4 linked regions of the Homo sapiens genome follow. The protein of the gene in region 2 interacts with the protein of the main gene of each other region in a pairwise test. Each region holds a gene or a part of one and is shown on either strand. Other genes may lie near its edges. The genes, in order: SPATA2, EFHC1, TEX11 and MIIP.

Region 1 (7,048 bases), on a different chromosome or scaffold from region 2:
CAGACTACCAAAAAACAGACCCTGGGGCCAGAGGCGTGATGGCAGCTTCTCTTAGATAAGTCAAGAATGGTAAATGCATGTGTGACTATCCTCTCCAGTGGTGCAATACATTTATTTATGTAGAGATGGAGTTTTTGCTCTGTTGCCCAGGCTGGAGTGCAATGGCACGATCTCAGCTCACTGCAACCTCTCCCTCCTGGGTTCACGCCATTCTCCTGCCTCAGCCTCCTGAGTAGCTGGGATTACAGGTGTTCGTCCAGCTAATTTTTGTATTTTTAGTAGAGGCGGGGTTTCGCTATGTTGGCCAGGCTAGTCTCAAACTCCCAATCTCAGGCGATCCACCCACCTTGGCCTCCCAGAGTTGTAGGATTACAGGCGTGAGCCACCGCGCCTGGCCTGCATTTTTATTTTTTAAGAGAATATACATTTTAAATTGTTTATTTTTTTATGGACAGAACAGTATGAAGTTAGAGCACATACCTACTTTGATACTAGGTGGTATGCTCTTCCAGCTAGAGCTGCAGGCAGGATGTGTCTCCTTTATTGCTGTCCTCTACCTGTCCCACCCATCCCCATTCCCCGACTGGGTCCAGCTCAGGCAGAGGGTGGGGGCTGCAGAAATGCTTGCTGGACATGGGAATCGTGGGGTGGTGAGAGGAATACAGGTTCCAAGTCAGAAGGCCAGGCTTGGATTATCGGGTCCATCATCTGCTAACCTTGAGCTACTTGTCGTACCTCATGCCATCTTTCTGAGCCCGTTTCTTTGCTCTCCAGCTGATCTCCCAGGATTCTTGGGAGGTACCAATGAGAAACTAAAGTGATGGCATCGTGAATGCAGACATCCTTTGCAGCATCCATTTCTCTTTTTCTCTTTTCTTTTTCTTTTTCTTTTTTTTTTTTTAGAGACGGAGTCTCGCTCTGTTGCCCAGGCTGGAGTGCAATGGGGCGATCTCGGCTCACTGCAGCCTCCGCCTCCTGGGTTCTAGCAATTCTCCTGCCTCAGCCTCCCGAGTAGCTGTGATTACAGGCGCATGCTGCCACACCCGTCTAATTTTTTTTTAAATTTTGGTAGAGACGGGGTTTCACCGTGTTGCCCAGGCTGGTCTCGAACTCCTGAGCTCAGGCAATCCACCTGCCTCGGCCTCCCAAAGTGCTAAGATTACAGGCGTGAGCCACCGTGCCTGGCTGCAGCATCCATTTCACCTACTTTATCAAGCACAGGCAGGCTCTGTGTTAGGCATCGTGGTGAACAACACAGACATGGTCCTTGCCTTTATGGAGCTTACCACGAGCTTACCAGCTTACCAGGGAGGGTGAGGGGTGGACAAAGAGAGGAAGCTAATGAATGAATGAAGTTGATAGTTTCAGATTGTGGTTATCGTAGGAGAATGTGACAGTGTGGAACTGGGAAGGTGAGATAGGGTGGTACCTCTAGAGGCTGATGTTTGAGCTGAGGCCTGAATGATGAGAATCTTCCTGAAGCAGAATTTTATCCCAAGTGGATTTTGTTTTCTTTTGTAAAGACAGGGTATTGCTATGTTGCCCAGGCTGGTCTCGAACTCCTGGCCTTGAGCAATCCTCCTGCCTTGGCCTTCCAAAGTTTAGGGATTACAGGCGTGAGCCCCCGCACCTGGCCCCTAAATGGATGTGTTTGCCTCCTGTACTCCTCAGCCTTATTTGTCACTGTAGCACTGGGCTCCCTCAGCAGTGCAGTGTGTTGGAGACAGTGGCCTCTCTGTGTCCCTAGTTTTGCTACACATCCCACCTCTCACCGCACCATTAGTACTCCCAGGAGTCTCCTCCTGGGGACAAAATCTGTGGAGGAGCCAGACTACTGGCTCTTTGAGATGAGGATGATTTTGTTGACCTCCTGATAGTTGCTGGGCTCGTAGGACCTTCCTAGCTGAACACAGGTCTGCTAAAGGAGTCCCCCACATGCCAGGCCCAGTCCTGCTGCAGCTTCTCTCAGCCCCTTGCTGTCTCCCACACTCAGCAGACATGAAGCACACAGGTCACCTTACTGAGCAAGATGGTCACAGGCCTGCACCCACGGAGCTTCTGGGCAGGAGCAGCAGGACCAGAGCATGTGAAAATGCACATCTACCACCCAGTCAGAGGTATTTGCCCCACTCAGAGAAGGCCTGTCCACTTAGGGGTACAGCACCTTCAGACAACAGCAATGGCCATCAAGGACTTCCCGGAGCCGGCTCTCTGAGCAGCTTCATATTCCATCATGCATAATCCTCTCGCCAGCTCTGGACAGAGGCGCTATTATTAACCCCGTTTTATAGGAGAAAACCGACACCCAGGGAGGTGGAGCAATTTGCCCAAGTAACCTGGAGAAGCAGCCCTGGCCTCACTCGCAGGTGCCTGGCCTTGGACCCCGTGTCCGTGACCCTGCGCGTGTTGTCTCCCCTGGCCCTGGCAGTGTCCCTCCATTAATCCGGATTCGCTCCCAGCGTTGTGGTGACAAGAATATTGCTGGATCTGTGCCTGTTCTACTAACAAGTGGCTAAGCAGATGACAAGATTGTGTAAAGCCTGTGTCCCAGCTCAGAACATTCTATCCTCTCCCAACAGGGGGCTGTCAAGCGCTCTGGTGATAAAGGGGCCGCAGGCTGTCAAAGGCCGGTAACAGCACTCCAGGGGCCGGTAGCCACGGTGGCCTCTTTTGAAAATTGTAAATAAGACCGTATCTCTCTCCCCTCGCTGTAAACTCTTCAGTGGCTTCACGTGGCTCTTTGTATAAAATATCGAATTCTGAATGTGCTCTTGCGGCCTTGGGGCTGAGGGTCCCGCTGATGCTGGCATCTGCCTCTCCTCATGCCCCTGCCCTCGTGGCCTCGGCCTCACTGGCTGCAGTTCTGTTACTGTTCCAGGCTTCCTGCCTCAGGAAAGCAGGGTGTGGTGGGTAAGGGCATGGACTTTGGAGCCAGATTGCCTGGGTTCTGAGCTCAGCTTCTCTGCCTCCTGAGAGTTCTATAACCTTGGACAGTTTCTTTTTCTTAAAAATTTTTTTGTATTTTTGTAGAGACGTGGTTTCACCGTGTTTCCCAGGCTGGTCTCGAGCTCCTGGACTCAAGCCATCCTCCCCCGTCAGCCTCCCAAAGTTCAGGAATTACAGGTGTGAGCCACTGTGCCTGGCCTACCTTGAGCAGTTTCTAATGTCTGTGTCTCAGTTTGCACATGGTCCACTGGGGCTGCCTGTAGCGTCTCTCTCCTAGGATTGTTTAAGAAGAAAAAGTGAGGCTGGGTATGGGGGCTCACACCTGTAATCCTGGCACTTTGGGAGGCCAAGGCTGGTGGATCACTTGAGGTCAGGAGTTCGAGACCAGCCTGGCCAACATGGTGAAACCCCATCTTGACTAAAAATACAAAAATTAACCAGGCGTGGTGGCAGGTGCCTGTAATCCCAGCTACTTGGGAGGCTGAGGCAGGAGAATCGCTTGAACCCGGGAGGCGGAGGTTGCAGTGAGCTGAGATCACGCCACTGCACTCCAGCCTGGGCTACAGAGCAAGGATCCATCTCAAAAAAAAAGTAAGCGAGTTAGTGTGTGTGAAGCTCGTCACGTGTCTGGAGCCTCTGGTACTATTAGCTCAGGGCCTTCCTCTACTGCGACTCCTTCCCCGGCCTCTTGGCCTGGCAGACTCCTCATCCTTCAGGTCTGTTGCTGTCTCAAGAGGGCTTTCCTAAACTCGCCCTTCCCCAACGAAACCAGGACAGGAGCTCCTGCTGTACTCACCCGAATTTCTCTTTCAGGAATATTAATCGTATTTTTCATTTGTGAGCACAACAAAGTCAAGGTCCATCTCTCTCTGGCCTCTGTTGTAACCCTGCTTGTAGTACATGCTCTGTAGTGTGCTGCTGGGGTCCAGTGTAGCCCAGGCCAGTTCTGCTGTTCATTTTGCCTCAGCGACCTGAAGCCGAAGCGCGACCGTATCGAGGAATGACATGCTTCTTGTTCCCCTCCTTCCAGAGCACTCCGCTGGTCCAGGCGGCAACATGTCCATGCTTTTAGTGATGTCCCTGCCTCTAATCCAGAAGCCATGGAGGAGATAAGGTAGCCCCCCTCGATCGGATGGGGAAGCCCAGTTCAATGGATACTAAATTCAAGGATGACTTATTTCGGAAGTACGTGCAGTTCCATGAGAGCAAAGTGGATACCACCACCAGCAGGCAGCGGCCTGGCAGCGATGAGTGCCTGCGGGTGGCAGCCTCAACCCTGCTCAGCCTGCACAAGGTGGATCCCTTTTATCGATTCCGGCTGATCCAGTTCTATGAGGTGGTGGAGAGCTCCTTGCGCTCGCTCAGCTCCTCTAGCCTGCGGGCTCTGCACGGCGCCTTCAGCATGCTGGAGACGGTGGGCATCAACCTCTTCCTCTACCCGTGGAAGAAGGAATTCAGAAGCATCAAGGTGAGGTCCTGGAGCAGCCTCCATACAGGCCCTCCTTCTCTCTTCCTGCCCCTGGCAGTCCCTCCTGAGAGGCTATGCCAGTCTGATCCCATCCATCCTGTGCTCTCAGATCCTTCCGGGCTCCGAACCTTCCCCGTCTCTCCAGCATCACCTCTGAACCGTTTCTGGCCCGGCTGCCACACCTTAAGCAGAGAAGCTGGGAAGGCAGGGGCAGCCAGGTTATGCAGGGTCTTGTGGCCCAGGGCAAGGCTTGGATTTGTTCTGAGTAGGCGGGGAAGGAGGCAGTGTGGGATCTGGCTTGCATCTGAAGAGGGTCATTCTGGCTGTGGTATGGGAAGTAGGCTGTAGAGGGGTGGGGGGAGGTGGGAGGGATGGGGAGAGCAGTTAGGAAGCTTCTCAGCGGTCCCAGCAAGCTGAGGGGTGTTCTGTACTAAGTGGGAACAGTAGAGGAGGAGGGGGAATTGAGAGAGGGATCCTGAATCAGACCACGCGGGGGATGGCACAGGAGAGCTGTCACCTAGCCAGGCTTCTTCATTCTGCCATGGGAGGAGTGGTAATCAAGAGAGGGGATGGCACAGGAGAGCTGTCACCTAGCCAGGCCCTTCAGTCTGCCGTGTTACTCAGCCCCTCATGGAAATACCAGAGAGGAACGTTCTGATTGTCACCGCGTTCTGCCTGTAATCTGGCCCCTTTATTCAGCCATGTTTGCCCAGGCTCTCTCTTCATATGGAGTAGAGTCTTCGTGCCCCACTAGGAAGCGAGAGGTTTTGCTTCCTGTGTTTAACAAAGTAGCTGCTGCCAGGCGCGGTGGCTCACACCTGTAATCCCAGCACATTGGGAGGCCGAGGCGGGTGGATCACGAGGTCAGGAGTTTGAGACCAGCTTGACCAGCACGGTGAAACCCCATCTCTACTAAAAACAGAAAAATTAGCTGGGCGTGTTGGCGGGCGCCTGTAATCCCAGCTATTCAGGAGGCTGAGGCAGGAGAATCGCTTGAACCCAGGAGGCGGAGGTTGCAGTGAGCCAAGATCGCACCACCGCACTCCACCCTGGGCAAAAGAGCGAGACTCCGTCTCAAACAAAAGAAAGGAGCTGCTGGGTCATTTCCTTGCACAATTCCTGAGTGCTTAGCAAGCCCCAGCTCCTGCGTCTTCTGCCTCCCGCAGGGTGAGGCTGTCGAGATCCTTCCCTGCCCTGCCCTCTCCCCGCCGCCCCACTTCAGAGCTGGACATCCTTTGCTTTGACATAGTCTCTGTCTTGTGTCTCTGACAGAAAACCCCACCTTTCTTTTCTACTCCCTCCCTTCTAGACCTACACGGGCCCTTTTGTTTATTATGTCAAGTCGACATTACTGGAAGAGGACATCCGAGCCATCCTGAGCTGCATGGGCTACACACCTGAGCTGGGCACTGCATACAAGCTCAGAGAGCTCGTGGAGACCCTCCAGGTGAAGATGGTCTCCTTTGAGCTCTTTCTGGCCAAAGTCGAGTGTGAGCAGATGCTAGAAATCCACTCACAAGTGAAGGACAAGGGCTACTCCGAGCTGGACATTGTGAGCGAGCGCAAGAGCAGTGCAGAGGATGTGCGCGGCTGCTCGGACGCCCTGCGGCGGCGGGCAGAGGGCCGGGAGCACCTGACGGCCTCCATGTCACGAGTGGCACTCCAGAAGTCGGCCAGCGAGCGGGCGGCCAAGGACTACTACAAGCCCCGCGTGACCAAGCCCTCGAGGTCAGTGGATGCCTATGACAGCTACTGGGAGAGCCGGAAGCCACCCCTGAAGGCCTCATTGAGTCTTCGGAAGGAGCCTGTGGCAACGGATGTGGGGGACGACCTCAAGGATGAGATCATCCGCCCATCCCCTTCGCTGCTGACCATGGCCAGCTCCCCCCACGGCAGCCCGGATGTGCTTCCACCCGCCTCCCCCAGCAACGGCCCGGCCCTGCTGCGCGGTACCTACTTCTCCACTCAGGATGACGTGGATCTGTACACAGACTCTGAACCCAGGGCCACCTACCGTCGGCAGGATGCTCTGCGGCCGGATGTGTGGCTGCTCAGAAACGATGCCCACTCCCTCTACCACAAGCGCTCGCCCCCTGCCAAAGAGTCCGCCCTCTCCAAGTGCCAAAGCTGCGGGCTGTCCTGCAGCTCCTCCCTCTGCCAGCGCTGTGACAGCCTGCTCACCTGTCCTCCAGCTTCCAAGCCCAGCGCCTTCCCCAGCAAGGCCTCGACTCATGACAGCCTGGCCCACGGGGCATCTCTGCGGGAGAAGTACCCAGGCCAGACTCAGGGCCTCGACCGCCTCCCGCACCTTCACTCCAAATCCAAGCCCTCCACCACGCCCACTTCCCGCTGTGGCTTCTGCAACCGCCCAGGCGCCACCAACACCTGCACCCAGTGTTCAAAAGTCTCATGTGACGCCTGCCTCAGCGCTTACCATTATGACCCCTGCTACAAAAAGAGTGAGCTGCACAAGTTCATGCCCAACAACCAGCTGAACTACAAGTCCACCCAGCTCTCCCATCTCGTGTACAGATAGACCGGCCTCGCCCCTTCCAGCTCCAAGGGCTACATCAACCGACCTTTCGGGTTTCACGGTGAAGAAGTACTAACGCATTGATCTCAGAGGCGGAGGCC
Region 2 (4,405 bases):
AAGGCTGCTGGTGCCCTGAGCAACTGATAATGCAAATGTGGACAAAGTGTCTGTTTTCTACTCTAGCCTGTTCATATGGACCAAATTTCAACAAGGAACTCAAGGAAAATTTGTACCTGCCGTATTTATGCTTTCATGTAAAAAAGGGTTGGGGGGAGGGGTGTCTTTTTGCTTTTGGTGAACTTTTTTTCAAAATCATTTTTCCACTGTTTCTGTCTGGTTTTAAAACAAATTACAGTTTTGTATGGATTTTTTAAATGTACATTTTGGAACAAATGATCAAATATTTTCTGAAATAACAATAAAAGGCAGAAAATTATCAGAATTGTCTCATAATTATTTCCTTGACGTGCTTTTATACAGTGATGCTTTTAACGTGGATGTTTACGTTTGCTTAAAGGAGTTTGCAATGAATTTTAGCCCTCATGTCTATTATTTTTCACTATATTAGTCATTTCTTATATATTTTGACCCGTATTTGTCCATTGTGATATGAATTAGGGAATTAAGGATGGAGAGTCAGTTATGTCAAGTGCTGGATAGCAATAAGCATCATTTTTATTTGACTCTTTAATAGTAAAGTGGAAAAGAGGTTTTCTTAACATGGGGTTTGTGGGTAGGAAGCTCCAGAAACAAGCACATCATCCTTGATGCCTACTATACTATGATGTTATTTAGCTTGGAGGAAATGGGGTTTCGTTTGTGTAAAGGCCAACAAATATGTTGGTGCTGACTAGAAGACATCCAAGTATTAGTAATAGTGGGGATTGCTGGTGTCACTTACATGGCTGCTGTTGGCTGTAGCTGCTTGCTGTGTTTACCAGAACCATCTTTCTTTGGAAAAAGATCTCAAAAGATGAGTGCAGTTACAGGTGGCAGTTAGTCAAGGACACCCATGGGGTGTGAGAAAGAGGAAATGTTTGCTTGAGGTGAAGGTGAGTGGTTCTGATGCATGGCAAGCTTCATTGTAGAGTTGGGTCCTGCTCTGCCATGAGAAGCTAGGTGAACTCAAGCAGTTAACCCTTCCGAGTCTTTTTGTGCATCTGTGTCAAAAGGGTTTCATGTTTTGTGGGGAGTCATGGTGAGAGATTTAGAGATACTGAATGCTAAGTTCATGGTACATATAAAGCACTCATATTGGCTTTTTAAAATGAACTTATGTGCCAGCAGGATACTCAGGAGTCACTTAACCAAGTGGATTCTCTGGACAACATTTAGAGACGTCTTCTCTACCTATGTGTCCCAAATACCCTCAAAGCCTATAGATATGGATTTGATACACCTTAATTGGATGGTATTTTCAAGGCCCCCTGATGGTGCAGACAAGGTACAGGCCCAGGTTTCTGAGTAGTGGCTAACTCACAGCCCATCTTTACCCGCAAGGCAGATTTTTATTAGTCCCAAAGCCGTAAGCACTATAAGCAGTCTTAGTCAAATGCTTCAGTTAGACCTGATAGCTTCAGCTACCAGTGCTAATCTTAATAATTCTCATTCTCTCTTTGTGTGTGTGTGTGTGTGGGTGTGTGTGTGTATTAGAATCTTTCAACTCCCTGGTGGCCAGTTTGAAGTGATGATCATTTCTGCTTCCTACAATATTGCTTGCTACAGGGTAATGCTCAGCTCCCTTCCACCACCTGAACCTGACACTCCAGATGCATGCCAGCTATGACTGTAGCATAAGGTAATTAGTGACATCTAATGGCTGCACTGCCATTCAGGATTTTAGTAGAAAAAGTGATTTGCTCTGACGTTTGTGGCTCCTATACTTGCTGCTTTGTATAAACAGGTGAGCAGCGAGTGTTTGGACACCACAGAAATGGCCTGCTGGCTTTGGTCTTTCATGAAATCTCTTTTATACCTTGTGTTGGTGCTGTCAGATCTCAGCTTCTCAGTCTTAAGTAAACTTAAAAGGAGATGCAAGGCAAGAAGTGGACAGCAAACTTAAGGAGTGTATGTGGACAGTGCCAACTTTATTGAAGACAGTTCCCTCTGAGACTACAGGCCTAGCTACTCAGAAGGCTGAGGCAGGAGGATTGCATGAGCCCAGGAGTTTGAGGCTGCAGTGAGCTATGGTCACACCACCGCATTCCAGTCTGGCAACAGAGTAAGACCCTGTCTCTAAAAAACAAACACAAAAACAAAACAAAACAGCCAAAAGCAGGCTAGAGGATGCTAAATGAGACTTTCCTAAATCTCCATTTTGGCTGAGACCCAAAGCTGAGGACAAAAATTGGCAAATATATCCATATGTTGCAGATTTGCTGCCGATCCATGAATGATTTGTTAAGGAGTAGCCCAAAGCTCCTCTACCACAGGAGGCAAGAGTGATGGAGAAAATATCAGAAAGTGCAAGCTTCTTGAAAGGGGCTGGAGTGCCTTGGGTCTGCAAGCTAAGTGAGGGTATACTTTAAAAGACTCAGGGTTTGACATGTGTCTGTCCCCTGGAGTTTGGAGAGCATAAGATTTGGGGTACCTGGTTCTCCCCTGAAACAGTCTAAAGGAAAGGGATTGAGCTGCCTAATTACACAGCCAAGAGAGCCATCTGGGTGAGAACATGGCGAGAGTGCACACCCTGGAAGGTGTGTCAGCCTGAAAGGGCCTCCTGGGAAGATCAGAAGGAGCCTTGGAGACCATACCATTAGAGCCGGGGTGATCAGGTACAGACTGGGTCCCGTCCATCTGAGAGTGGTGCACTGGGCAGTTTCCGGTTGGAAAGAGTTCTAAGAACTCACCAAAACGGGGCTCTGAGCAAAGGACATGGAATCAACCTAGGTGCCAATCAATGGTGGATTAGATTTTTTAAATGAAGTATATCTACACCATGGAATACTACGCAGCCATAAAAAATGAAATCATGTATTCTGCAGCAACATGGATGCAGCTGGAGGCCATTATCCTAAAGTGAATTGATGCAGGAATAGGAAACCAAATATTGCATGTTCTTACTTCTAAGTGGGAGCTAAACATTGAATACACATAGACATAATGATGGGAACAATAGACACTGGGGACTACCAGAGTGGGAAGGGAAGGAGGGGGTATGTGTGGAAAAACTACTTACTGGGCACTATGCTCACTACCTGGGTGCAATATACTCATGTAACAAACCTGCACATGTACCCCCTGAATCCAAAAAGAGAGAAAAGGTGCTCTGGGAGAAAGAGTCAGCCTTTCGGCACATGTCACTCAGACCTGGCCCCACATTACGACATTACTAGCCACAGAAATAAGACTTTGCCCTTTTTCTCTGGTTTCTACCCGCTTAACCTTTCCCAGAGCCTACATGGGCTAGAAACAGCAGCATGGCTGAATAGGAACAAAGGGAGCAGAAGACAGAAAGAAGGGAGTAAGAAGAAACCACTATCATCACCCCAGTATACACACACTCTTTACCACAGGCTTCTAAGCCTGGGGGAAGGACTGAGCTGGGCCAAGTAGGATAGAGCTTGGTAATTTTTAAGCTGAAAAAACTTCTAAAATACAGATAGTCCCCAACTTTCAATGGTCCAACTTATTTGCCTACTTTACAATGGGCTTATCAGGGTTATTAAATGTGTTTTCAACTTGTGATATTTTTTACTTACGTGAGTTTATTGAGACATAGCCCCATAAGTAGAGGAGCATCTGTACTTGAAAGAGATACTGTTTTAAATAGTTATGAGCGACTGAGGGTAAAACAAAACAAAACATGGGTTATTCCCAAGATAATAACCTGGAACAGAAAAGGAATCAACATAATACATTCACAGCCCTTTCAATAAGCTGGTTACAAGTGGCTGAGCTCGTTAGGGAAGGAAACACCAAGGGAAGTTCCCTAGAAGTTCTGAGAGGGCAAAGCAGTCTGAATTCTGTGTAACTCTATCCTCATTCATACCACATTTTGGGTGGCTTCGGGGAATTTGAGATAGCATGTTTAAAGATGAACTTAGTGGCTGACTTCAACCAAAGAGAAGCCCTGTTTGTAAAAAGCCAGTCAGAGCTCACCAGAGAATAGTAACTGCAACTAGTCTTTCCTTCCTCTCTCAAGGCCAGGCTCTCTAAAAGCAGCATTTTTCTAACCTTTTTTTTTTTGAGATGGAGTCTTGCTCTGTCACCCAGGCTGGATGGAGTGCAGTGGCGTGGTCTTGGCTCACTGCAACCTCTGCCTCCAGGGTTCAAGTGATTCTCCCATTTAAGCCTCCCGAGTGGCTGGGACTACAGGCACACGCCACCACACCTGGCTAATTTTTCTATTTTTAGTAGAGATGTGTGCACATATATGTATATACATAATATATATACACATATACATACTATATGTATACATATAAGCGTGTGTGTGTATGAATGTGTACATATAAAATATATATATATATATATATGTAGAGAGAGAGAAAGAGAGAGTTATAAGAAATTGCTCACACAA
Region 3 (6,320 bases), on a different chromosome or scaffold from region 2:
AGAGCCTAAAAGGACAGGCATTTGTGCTCCAGAATACCTACGATTCAGTTAGAGATCTACGTGGCTGCCATATGTATTAAGATGTTGAGGACAGAGAAAACTGGTTTAAAATATGTGGCCCCAAAAACCATCAGAGCAAACACCTCAGTTTGCTGACATTGATTTGTATTACACGTAGGCAAGTCCATGTGGCTTTCAGGTCAGTAGCTGTGTGGATGCATTTCTTTATTGAGGATTAATGATTTTCATAAGCAATGCTGGGCATGAGGGCAACTAATGCAAATTAAAATAAAACTCGAGTGTTCCCTAACTCATTGGATGACACCATCATTCTTCTGGTTGCCCAAGCCAGACATCTAGGAGTCATCCTCAGCACCTCCCTCACTCCCACTTCTAATCTATCACCAAGTACTATCAATCAATTTGACCTCCCAAATATCTCTCAAATTCATCTACTTCCTCCTATCTTTCACCATCAGTAACCTAGTTCAAGTTACACACCTTTTATCTTAGCTAGTTTAGTGATCTCAGGAACCTTTTAACTGGCCTCACATCTACTCTTGCTTTCTTCCTTCCTTTCTTTGCCCAGCAACCAAGGTGATCTTTTACTTTTTTTTTTTTTTTTTTTTTTTTTTGAGATGGAGTCTCGCTCTGTCACCAGGCTGGAGTGCAGTGGTGCAATCTCGGCTCACTGCAACCTCTGCCTCCCAGGTTCAAGCGATTCCCCTGCCTCAGCCTCCCCAGTAGCTGGGACTACAGGCACCCGCCACCACGCCCAGCTAATTTTTGTATTTTTAGTAGAGATGAGGTTTCACCATGTTGGCCAGGATGGTCTCGATCTCTTGACCTCGTGATCCGCCCACCTCGGCCTCCCAAAGTCCTGGGATTACAGGTGTGATCCACCATGCCCAGCCAATCTTTTACATTTTTGAGTATGCATGACCTTTTGAAATCCTCTTTAGTAGTTTCCCATTGCTCTTAAAATAAAGACCAAAATCTTGAATGTGGTATACAAGATCCTACTAACCTATCTGTCCTCATCTTGAGCCACTCTTTCCCTCACATTCTGCACTGTCAGCCACACTTTACAAGACCACAAATTACCACCGTCTAGGCAAATATGATGGTCTCTTTTCCCTGGCCTTCGTTATTGACCACTGCCTCCTTATTGAAATTCTGTTTTCCTTTGTCCTTTATTTTCTCGCCACTCCTCTGCGTTCTTTTCCCTCTTACCACCCAACTATGAACATTTCCAATATTCTCTACTCTTTGCTACTCTGTATTCTGTACTCTGTCCTTTAAGTGAATTAATACACTTTAACTATTACCTGAGTTCCAATCCATATCTGCAACAGCCTGCTTATCTCCAGAGTTACCTCAAGCCAACTTGTTTAAAATAGAACTTATTGTTGTCCCTTATCCCCAGAAACATGTCCTTCAATTTTTTCTTTCAGTGATGCCAGCATTCTTTCAGCCATTCAAACTACATACCTTAGAGCCATTTTCACTTGACCTGTCATTCCCCATATCAAATCAGTTACCAAATTCTATTGATTCTTCCTTTAAATGATTCTTACATCCGTCCATCTAAATTGTCACTATTTTAGTTCTGACCCTCATCACTTCATTCTTAGATCACACAACTCCTTTTATTTTATTTTATTTTATTTTTATTTATTTATTTTTTTGAGACAGAATCTCGCCCTGTCGCCCAGGCTGGAGTGCAGTGGTGCGATCTTGGCTCACTTCAAGCTCCGCCTCCCAGGTTCACGCCATTCTCCTGCCTCAGCCTTCCGAGTAGCTGGGACTACAGGTGCCTGCCACCACGCCCGGCTAATGTTTTGTATTTTTAGTAGAGACAGGATTTCACCATGTTAGCCAAGATGTTCTTGATCTCCTGACCTCGTGATCTGCCTGCCTCGGCCTCCCAAAGTGCTGGGATTACAGGCACAAGCCACCACGCCGGGCCTTTATTTTATTTTTTGAGACGGAGTTTGGAGTTTCACTCTTGTTGCCCAGGCTGGAGTGCAATGGCACAATCTTGGCTCACCACAACCTCCGCCTCCTGGGTTCAAGCGATTCTCCTGCCTCAGCCTCCCGAGTAGCTGGGATTACAGGCATGTGCCATCACACCCAGCTATTTTGTATTTTTAGTAGAGACGGGGTTTCTCCATGTTGGTCAGGCTGGTCTCGAACTCCCGACCTCAGGTGATCTGCCCGCCTTGGCCTCCCAAAGTGCTGGGATTACAGGTGTGAGCCACTGCGCCAGGCCATAACTCCCTTTAAACACGTCTCCCTGTCTGTGTTTTCCCACACGGAGGTCTGTTCTAAACACCACTGGCATTTCTATCTTATTAAAACTACACTTTCATCATATCACTCTCCTTCTCAAAAAGTTTCAGTGCCTTCCCGTTGCCAGCAGGATAAATTTCAAAATCTGAAGCCTGTAATGCAAAAACCCTTAACACTCCAGCCCACAAGATGTTAGCAAACGTTCCACATACCCTGGATTAGACAAAGTTCCATGGTTTCTTTACTGTAAAACTTCCCTAAACTTTCAGTGAACTAGTGTGCATTATAATGCTCCAAAAGGGTGATATATAGAATGCGGCATTTCCAAAATGTATTTGACTAAAGAACTCTATTTTCATAGACCATCTGTTAACATTTCTCATGACACTAGTGTTCTGAGGAAGAACATTGAGGAAAGGCTTAGGAAGCTCCATCCTACATTTCCAGTCTTATTTCCCGTTAACTCCTCTACATAAATCGTCTGCTTAGGCCAAAGAACTCTTGGTCTTCCTAAGACATGCTTGTTCTCAAGTACAATCCAAGTCTTCATTTATTCTGTTCTACCCACATGGAATGCCCTTCTCTTTCTCTGAATATCTATATTTTTCTTTTTAATTGAGATTTAGTTCATATATCATAAAACTCACATTAAGGTATACAGTTCAGTGAGTTATAGTATATTCAAAAGATTGTGCAACCATCACCATTATCTAATTCTAGAACATTTTCATCATCCCCAAAAGAAACTCTATACCCATTAGCAGTCCTTCCCCATACCTCCCTTCCCCAGCCCCTGGCAACCACAAATCTCCTTTCTGTCTCTATGGCTTTGCCTATTCTGCACATTTCATATAATCTCTGTATATGTAGATCCTACTCATCTACCCTAAGATCATGTTTGTTTGTTTGTTTAAGTCATTTTTTTCATTCACAACATTAAAATCACAACACTCATACCCTGTATCAGACACTGTGCCAAGCAAAGGCAAATGTCATTTTACCTTCAAGGGGCTCCCTGCCTAGTGGGGGAGACAGGCAGTACAGTGTTCAAAGTACTATTATGGTGCTGTGAACAAAGTAGCAGAGGGGCAAAGAGGTTTGAGCAAGAAATTGTGGAGAGCCAGGGAAATCCTCACTGAGGAGGTGGCATCTGACTGGATATTGATTCATTTGTTCATTCATTCATTCAGCAAACATCTGTTGTGCCTCTTATGTGCCAGGCACAGTGCTGGACTCTGAAGATACAAAAATGCACAGGAAAAATTCCCTGTACCTCAAGGAACTCAATAGTCTGGAGGAGATAAATACATAGCATTTCAAAACAATATAACATAAGTTATATTAGAGGAATGGAAAGCTCACTGTGGGAACAGACAACTAACTGTTCTTGTGAATTTGAAGAAAAAGTATAAGTCTATGAAGTGGACAAGGATGAGGAGTAGTGTTTCAAGCAGAGACTAGACCGCCTCTGACTGGAATATCCTAGTGCTCATTTCTTTAACTGAATGAGAGCACCTAATGTTTGTGTCTCTTAATCACATACCTTGTGAAGTCGTCTTTACATGTGGATGCCTTGTGTCCCCAAAAGCATTGCACAACCTTTAGGATAAAAGTTTTGTCTTTTCCCTCTTAGTGCCCTCATTATCACAGTGTTTTATGTATAGTAATTTCTTTTTGGATCCAAATGAATGAAAGGATGACAGCTGAGACAGCATTCTTGACACTCTCAAAAAGCTGCTGCCTAATGTGTCTCCTATCACATTTCTCCCTTCTGGGGCTTTAACATGAATGCTTTCTTTGTGTTCCATCTCCTATGCAAGAACCAAGAAAGTAGCTTCTTAGACTAATACTTTTCACTATTGCAAAGTATTGTGAAGAAGCAAATATAATCTTGTGATTAGTCATGTTAAAGACCACTGATAAGGCTAAGGGACCATCTTAGAAATGTGTGCTGTGTTCATAGCTAGGTAGATATCGTTAACTCTGAAGATGAATATAATTTCTACTCCAAATATGGACTAATTCTGGTGACAGAAATTAAGAAATTCAATAAAACTGCTTCTTGACAACCTTATCCGAAAAGTAGAGGTAGGTATTAGGGAGGTAATTGACTGAAGACAGAATCAAGGGAAGCCCCAAACAGTATGCAAGTTTTTCTCGTGCCTCAGGAAGATTAGGAATCTTTCTAATTCTTTCCTTCAGTCAGAGAGGACCTCGGTTTACGTCTCTTCATGAGATCTTGCTATGGAACATTCTACAGCTGACAAACCTTCAAAGTGCTCTCCTCCTGCACTCTCCAGGAGCACAGACCTTCCTAAACATCAGCAGAGCTCCTATTGTTTGTTTAGTAATAAAGGGACATAGCATGGATACAGGTAGTGCCACAATGAACTGTGACAGTAATAACTGCAAAATTTCTGTTCTTGGATTATAGAAAGACTACCCAGAAATGGAGATTCTCTGGCTGATGGTCAAGTCCTGGAATACCGGAGTACTTATGTTTAGCAGGAGCAAGTATGCATCTGCTGAAAAGTGGTGTGGCCTGGCCTTGCGTTTCCTTAACCACCTTACCTCCTTCAAGGAAAGCTATGAAACTCAGGTAAGGAGGGAGAGGGCTAGGGCAGATGACATGACCTAGGGGGCAAGAGGTTATGGCTGGGCTCTCCACAAGGACTCAACCCCATCCTCCTTGGCTAGGAAAGGATCTTGCTCATTGTTCCTCTCAATGGTTCCACATAACTTCAAGAATCAGGAGACCATAAACAGTAATTCCTTAGAGCAAAAACCAAGAAGGACAGAGAACAGGGGGAAATTTAAGGATAGCAAATGGAATCTAATTAAGAGGAATGCCAAGAGTGAGCTCTGGAAAGATGCATCACTGTCAGTGCCAGTGCATGTGGGAAAGGACTGGCCTCTGCTCAAAGCAATAACTGTTGAAAAAGGCATTTTCTCCAGGAACTATTCTCAGTTGCAGAGTTCTGGGCCATTGGCTAACCAGGAGAGGTTTGGTAGAGAAAAAGCCTTGTTACCAAATAAGAGCAAAGGATATTTTATAGTTAAGTATCTTCTCCCTTATAATAGGGGATTCCTTTTCCTCAAGAGAGGACTGTATTTTCTCCCCAAATCTGAGATGCTTCAGATCTCCGAAGGTAACGGTTAGACTTTCATGCCATCACCGTGGGTCTGGGAAGCTTTCCCACATTTCTTTTTCCCCTCAAGAAATCTATTTGTTGTTCTCTTTCCCAGATGAATATGCTGTATAGTCAGCTTGTGGAAGCATTGAGTAACAACAAGGGCCCAGTTTTTCATGAACATGGCTACTGGAGCAAGTCAGATTAGGCAAGCTCATGGCCACATGAAGAAGATACATTGTCCCGAGATGCTGACTGTTTAAATTTTTGCCAGAGTTTCTCTTGAGCTTTTGTTTCTGTTTGCTCAGACCCTGTTTTCATGTTGTTGAATAAACTTTCTAAAATAAAAGCATGCTGAATTTACCTTGGTGACCAGCTCATTTCTGGGGGACAAATGAATTTTCCAAAGTGCTAAGGATGATATTGAAATAGACCATGTGAGAGCAAGATGGTTTATGCCCCATCTGAACAAAAGAGAATGTTCATCCCAGTTCAACACAGATTGCATTTTATTCCCAAAGTGCTCAAATTCCTAATCCCTGAAGATATCAAAGAATCCCAGACTCTTATTTGGAAGGACCTTAGTGGTCACCAGGGCCAGCATTTATCTGATTCATGAAATCTCTCTCTAACATCCTTGAGAATCTGTTGCCCAGTTTCTAACAGAACTTATTCCAGGCCAGGCGTAGTGGCTTGTGCCTGTAATCCCAGCACTTTGGGAGGCTGAGGTGGGCAGATCACTTGAGGCCAGGAGTTCAAGACCAGCCTGGCCAACATGGCAAAACTCCATCTCTACTAAAAATACAAAAAAAAAAAAAATAGCCAGGCATGGTGGCGCGTGCCTGTAGTCCCAGCTACTCGGGAGGCTGAGGCAGGAGAATCGTTTGAACCCAGGAG
Region 4 (3,096 bases), on a different chromosome or scaffold from region 2:
CGAATTAGGGGCTGCCCTGTGTGGCACCATCCCACCCTCCCCAGCAGTGCCCCTGTGCTGGTGGGACTCCATCCCAGCTCCTGAGGGCCCCAGGAGGATGTCCCTCCCCACCCCTTAGGGCGTGGGCCCCAGGTTCTGGGAGGAAAGGGGTTAGGAGGAAATGGGCCGAAGGGCTTCCCAGAGGGATTGGCAGCTTGTGTGGTTGGGGGCCGCTGAGGGCAGCACGGAGCCTGGGGACCTGGGTTCCTGGCTCAGGGAGAGCTGTGGCTTCTCATGGGCCTCGCAGGCGTGTACTGTTACCGTGTCAACCGGCGCCTGTTCCCGGTGCCTGTGGATCCCGGTACCCCCTGCCGCCTGTGCAGGACACCGCGAGACCAGCAGGGCCCTGGGACCCTGGCGCAGCCAGCGCACGTCAGGTGAGTGACCAGAGTATTGGGACACCTTGGGGGACAGAGCCTGAACCACTGGTTTTAAGAAAAGATGGGCCTGGGCGTGGGCCCCCAACCGCTGGGAGGCTCCTCAGGGGTCCCCCACTGCCCCCCTGCGCAGGGTGAGCATCCCGCTGTCGATCCTGGAGCCCCCGCACCGGTACCACATCCACCGGCGAAAGAGCTTTGACGCCTCTGACACACTGGCCCTGCCCCGGGTGAGCAGCCACGTGGGGCTGGATGGTGATGAGGGCGGGGCTGGCTCAGACTGGCCCAGATCCCCAGGGAGGGTCACAGAGCGAGACTGGGCTCGACAAGGGTGAGCGCCCAAGTCTCTGGAGCACAGCCTGGGCCTCTTCCATCACCCACACCTGTACCTAAGGGAGGTAGGACCCCCGCTCCACGTACCCCGGTGCTTCCAGGGTGATCTGCCTGCAGGCTGGCATGACATGAATGGGTCCTGTTTATTGCGCTTTTGTGTACTGCAGGCACAGTCCTTAGGGGGCTTATCTCATGGAGCCCCCACAGCAGCCAGGAGTGTAGGCACTGCTGTACCCCCACCCTGCAGGTGGGGAGACCGAAGCAGAGGGGGAGGCGCCTTGGTGGAGGAGCTGGGATTCGAACCTAGGTCTCTGTGCTGCTGCTGCTGCTTTTTTTTTTTTTTTTTTTTTTTGAGACCGAGTTTTGTTCTTACTGCCCAGGCTGGAGTGCATTGGCATGGTCTCAGCTCACTGCAGCCTCCACTGTAGTCCCAGCTACTTGGGAGGCTGAGGTGGGAGGATCGCTTGAACCTGGGAGGCAGAGGCTGCAGTGAGCTGAGATCTCGCCACTGCACTGCAGCCTGGGTGACAGAGTGAGACTCCATCTCAAAAAAAAAAAAAATGTCCTTTCCTGTGTCTCCAGGTCGGGATGGGGTGCCAGTGGCAACTCCCCCTGACTCCTAAATTGAGAGTAGGGCAGCTGGGGTCAGAGGAGGAGAAGGATGCAGAGGAAAGTCAGTTTGCTGGTCCGTAAAATGGACATAACAGCGCCATCCTCAGGGATGTTGGTGGTGAGGTGGGGCTGTTGAGTGAAGCAATCCATGCAGGTGCTTGGAGAGCCTACAGCAGGAAGTACCCTGTGAATGTCACTGTCACCGTCCTATCCTCCTCCCATTTCAGCTCTCAGGGCCCCAGGGATGGCTGGATCTGCCAGGATAAGAAAGGGGAGAGCTGGGGTAGTCTTGTGGGTAGACACAGGCCCTGCCTTGGTGGGGGCCTCCTTCCTAATGGGGGGCACAGTTCCTCCCTGATGGGGGTGTGCCCAGTCAGCGGGGAGCTTGTCCCAGGTCAGGCACTTTTAACTCCTTGCCTTCCACAGCACTGCCTGCTGGGCTGGGACATTTTTCCTCCGAAGTCTGAGAAAAGCTCAGCCCCCAGGAACCTGGACCTCTGGTCCTCTGTCTCCGCTGAGGCCCAGCACCAGAAGCTGTCCGGCACCAGCAGCCCTTTTCACCCGGTACGGTCCAGATCGCATCCTAGCCTGGGGTGCCCCCTAGAGGGACAGAGACCTCGCAGCAGGCCTGGGGACTGCAGAGCCTCCTGGGGGGTAGGATTGAGGTGGGGAGGATGGAGCCTGGGAGTGTCTCTCTGCAGGGTCCAGCCCTCCAGCCCTGACCCTAGCCATCCCTCGGAACTCCTCTGCTCCCTGCCGCCTGCCCTGCTCCACCCAGGAAGGCCACCCTGACTGCAAGATCCAGGAGGGAATGTGGCTGGAACTGGGGATGACCTGTCCCTTTCAAGTGGCCCCCCTGAGACTTCCCTATTCCCCATCCAGGCCTCACCAATGCAGATGCTGCCCCCGACCCCGACCTGGTCAGTGCCCCAGGTCCCTCGGCCCCACGTCCCACGGCAGAAGCCCTGAGGACTGACTCCTGGGGGAGAACAGCATTCCCGCCGCCTCCAGCCTCTCCCCTCTGGCAGGCGCACCCAGGAGATGGAATCCCCTGCCCGCCCAGCTCAGGCCCAGCTGTCCTAGGTTGGGCAGGTGGGTGGACCCAAGCTTGTCTGCTGCCTGAGTTCCAGAGAGGGAGGACCCTGGGGTGGAGGGTGAGGGATTCTGTGGAAGTTTGTAAATAAAGCTCAGTGCTCTGCAGCTCAAGTCCCACGTGTGCTGGTTCCATCCTGCTAATGCACTTGAGGCCCAGAAGGCACTCTGGCCTCTCAGCCTGCCCTCCTGGCACCTGTGGAAGGAAGATACTGCAACCACTGGGACTAGGCAGTGTGTGTCCGTCACCATGAGGGTGGCTCCTTCCGCAGATCCCCAGCTCTGGGTAGTGGCCTCCACCAGATGGGGGAGGGGGGGCCCCTGGGCAGGCTGGGCCAAGGTTATTAAAAAGTCATTTTAGCGAGGGCCTCCGCTGAAGCCGTGAGTCGTGTTGAGTGACTGAGCTCTCTCCTTCCTGGTCCCAGAACCGGGATCCATTGATAGAAGGGCTCTCTGGAAGTCCCTGGGGTCACATGGCTCCTCCACCCAGCCATGGGAGCCGCAGGTCATTCAGAGCCCCAGCAGGGACAGATGAGGAAACAGGGCTGGGCGGTGAGTTGGAGGCAAGGTTAGCAGAGAGCCCAGATGTCCAGTCTGGGAGAGTAGGCAGTGCCCTGTCCTTCACTCACCTCTTGTATGTGTT

The links.
Region 1: the proteins of EFHC1 (region 2) and SPATA2 interact in binary tests that used the Homo sapiens proteins (3 or more experiments, as listed by UniProt).
Region 3: the proteins of EFHC1 (region 2) and TEX11 interact in binary tests that used the Homo sapiens proteins (3 or more experiments, as listed by UniProt).
Region 4: the proteins of EFHC1 (region 2) and MIIP interact in binary tests that used the Homo sapiens proteins (3 or more experiments, as listed by UniProt).

The regions. Positions count from the first base shown.
Region 1 is NC_000020.11:49,905,521-49,912,568, reverse strand, and holds part of SPATA2 (spermatogenesis-associated protein 2), read left to right. Parts: exon of another isoform or gene 1-2,117; intron 2,118-3,976; 5' UTR 3,977-4,078; coding exon 4,079-4,414; intron 4,415-5,723; coding exon 5,724-6,950; 3' UTR 6,951-7,048.
Region 2 is NC_000006.12:52,493,322-52,497,726, reverse strand, and holds the end of EFHC1 (EF-hand domain-containing protein 1), read right to left. Parts: 3' UTR 529-4,405; downstream 1-528. UniProt on the Homo sapiens protein: Microtubule inner protein (MIP) part of the dynein-decorated doublet microtubules (DMTs) in cilia axoneme, which is required for motile cilia beating.
Region 3 is NC_000023.11:70,528,406-70,534,725, reverse strand, and holds the end of TEX11 (testis-expressed protein 11), read left to right. Parts: intron 1-4,726; coding exon 4,727-4,891; intron 4,892-5,538; coding exon 5,539-5,631; 3' UTR 5,632-5,786; downstream 5,787-6,320. UniProt on the Homo sapiens protein: Regulator of crossing-over during meiosis. Involved in initiation and/or maintenance of chromosome synapsis and formation of crossovers.
Region 4 is NC_000001.11:12,029,479-12,032,574, forward strand, and holds the end of MIIP (migration and invasion-inhibitory protein), read left to right. Parts: intron 1-286; coding exon 287-416; intron 417-549; coding exon 550-646; intron 647-1,787; coding exon 1,788-1,925; intron 1,926-2,062; coding exon of another isoform or gene 2,063-2,083; exon of another isoform or gene 2,084-2,243; coding exon 2,244-2,330; 3' UTR 2,331-2,567; downstream 2,568-3,096.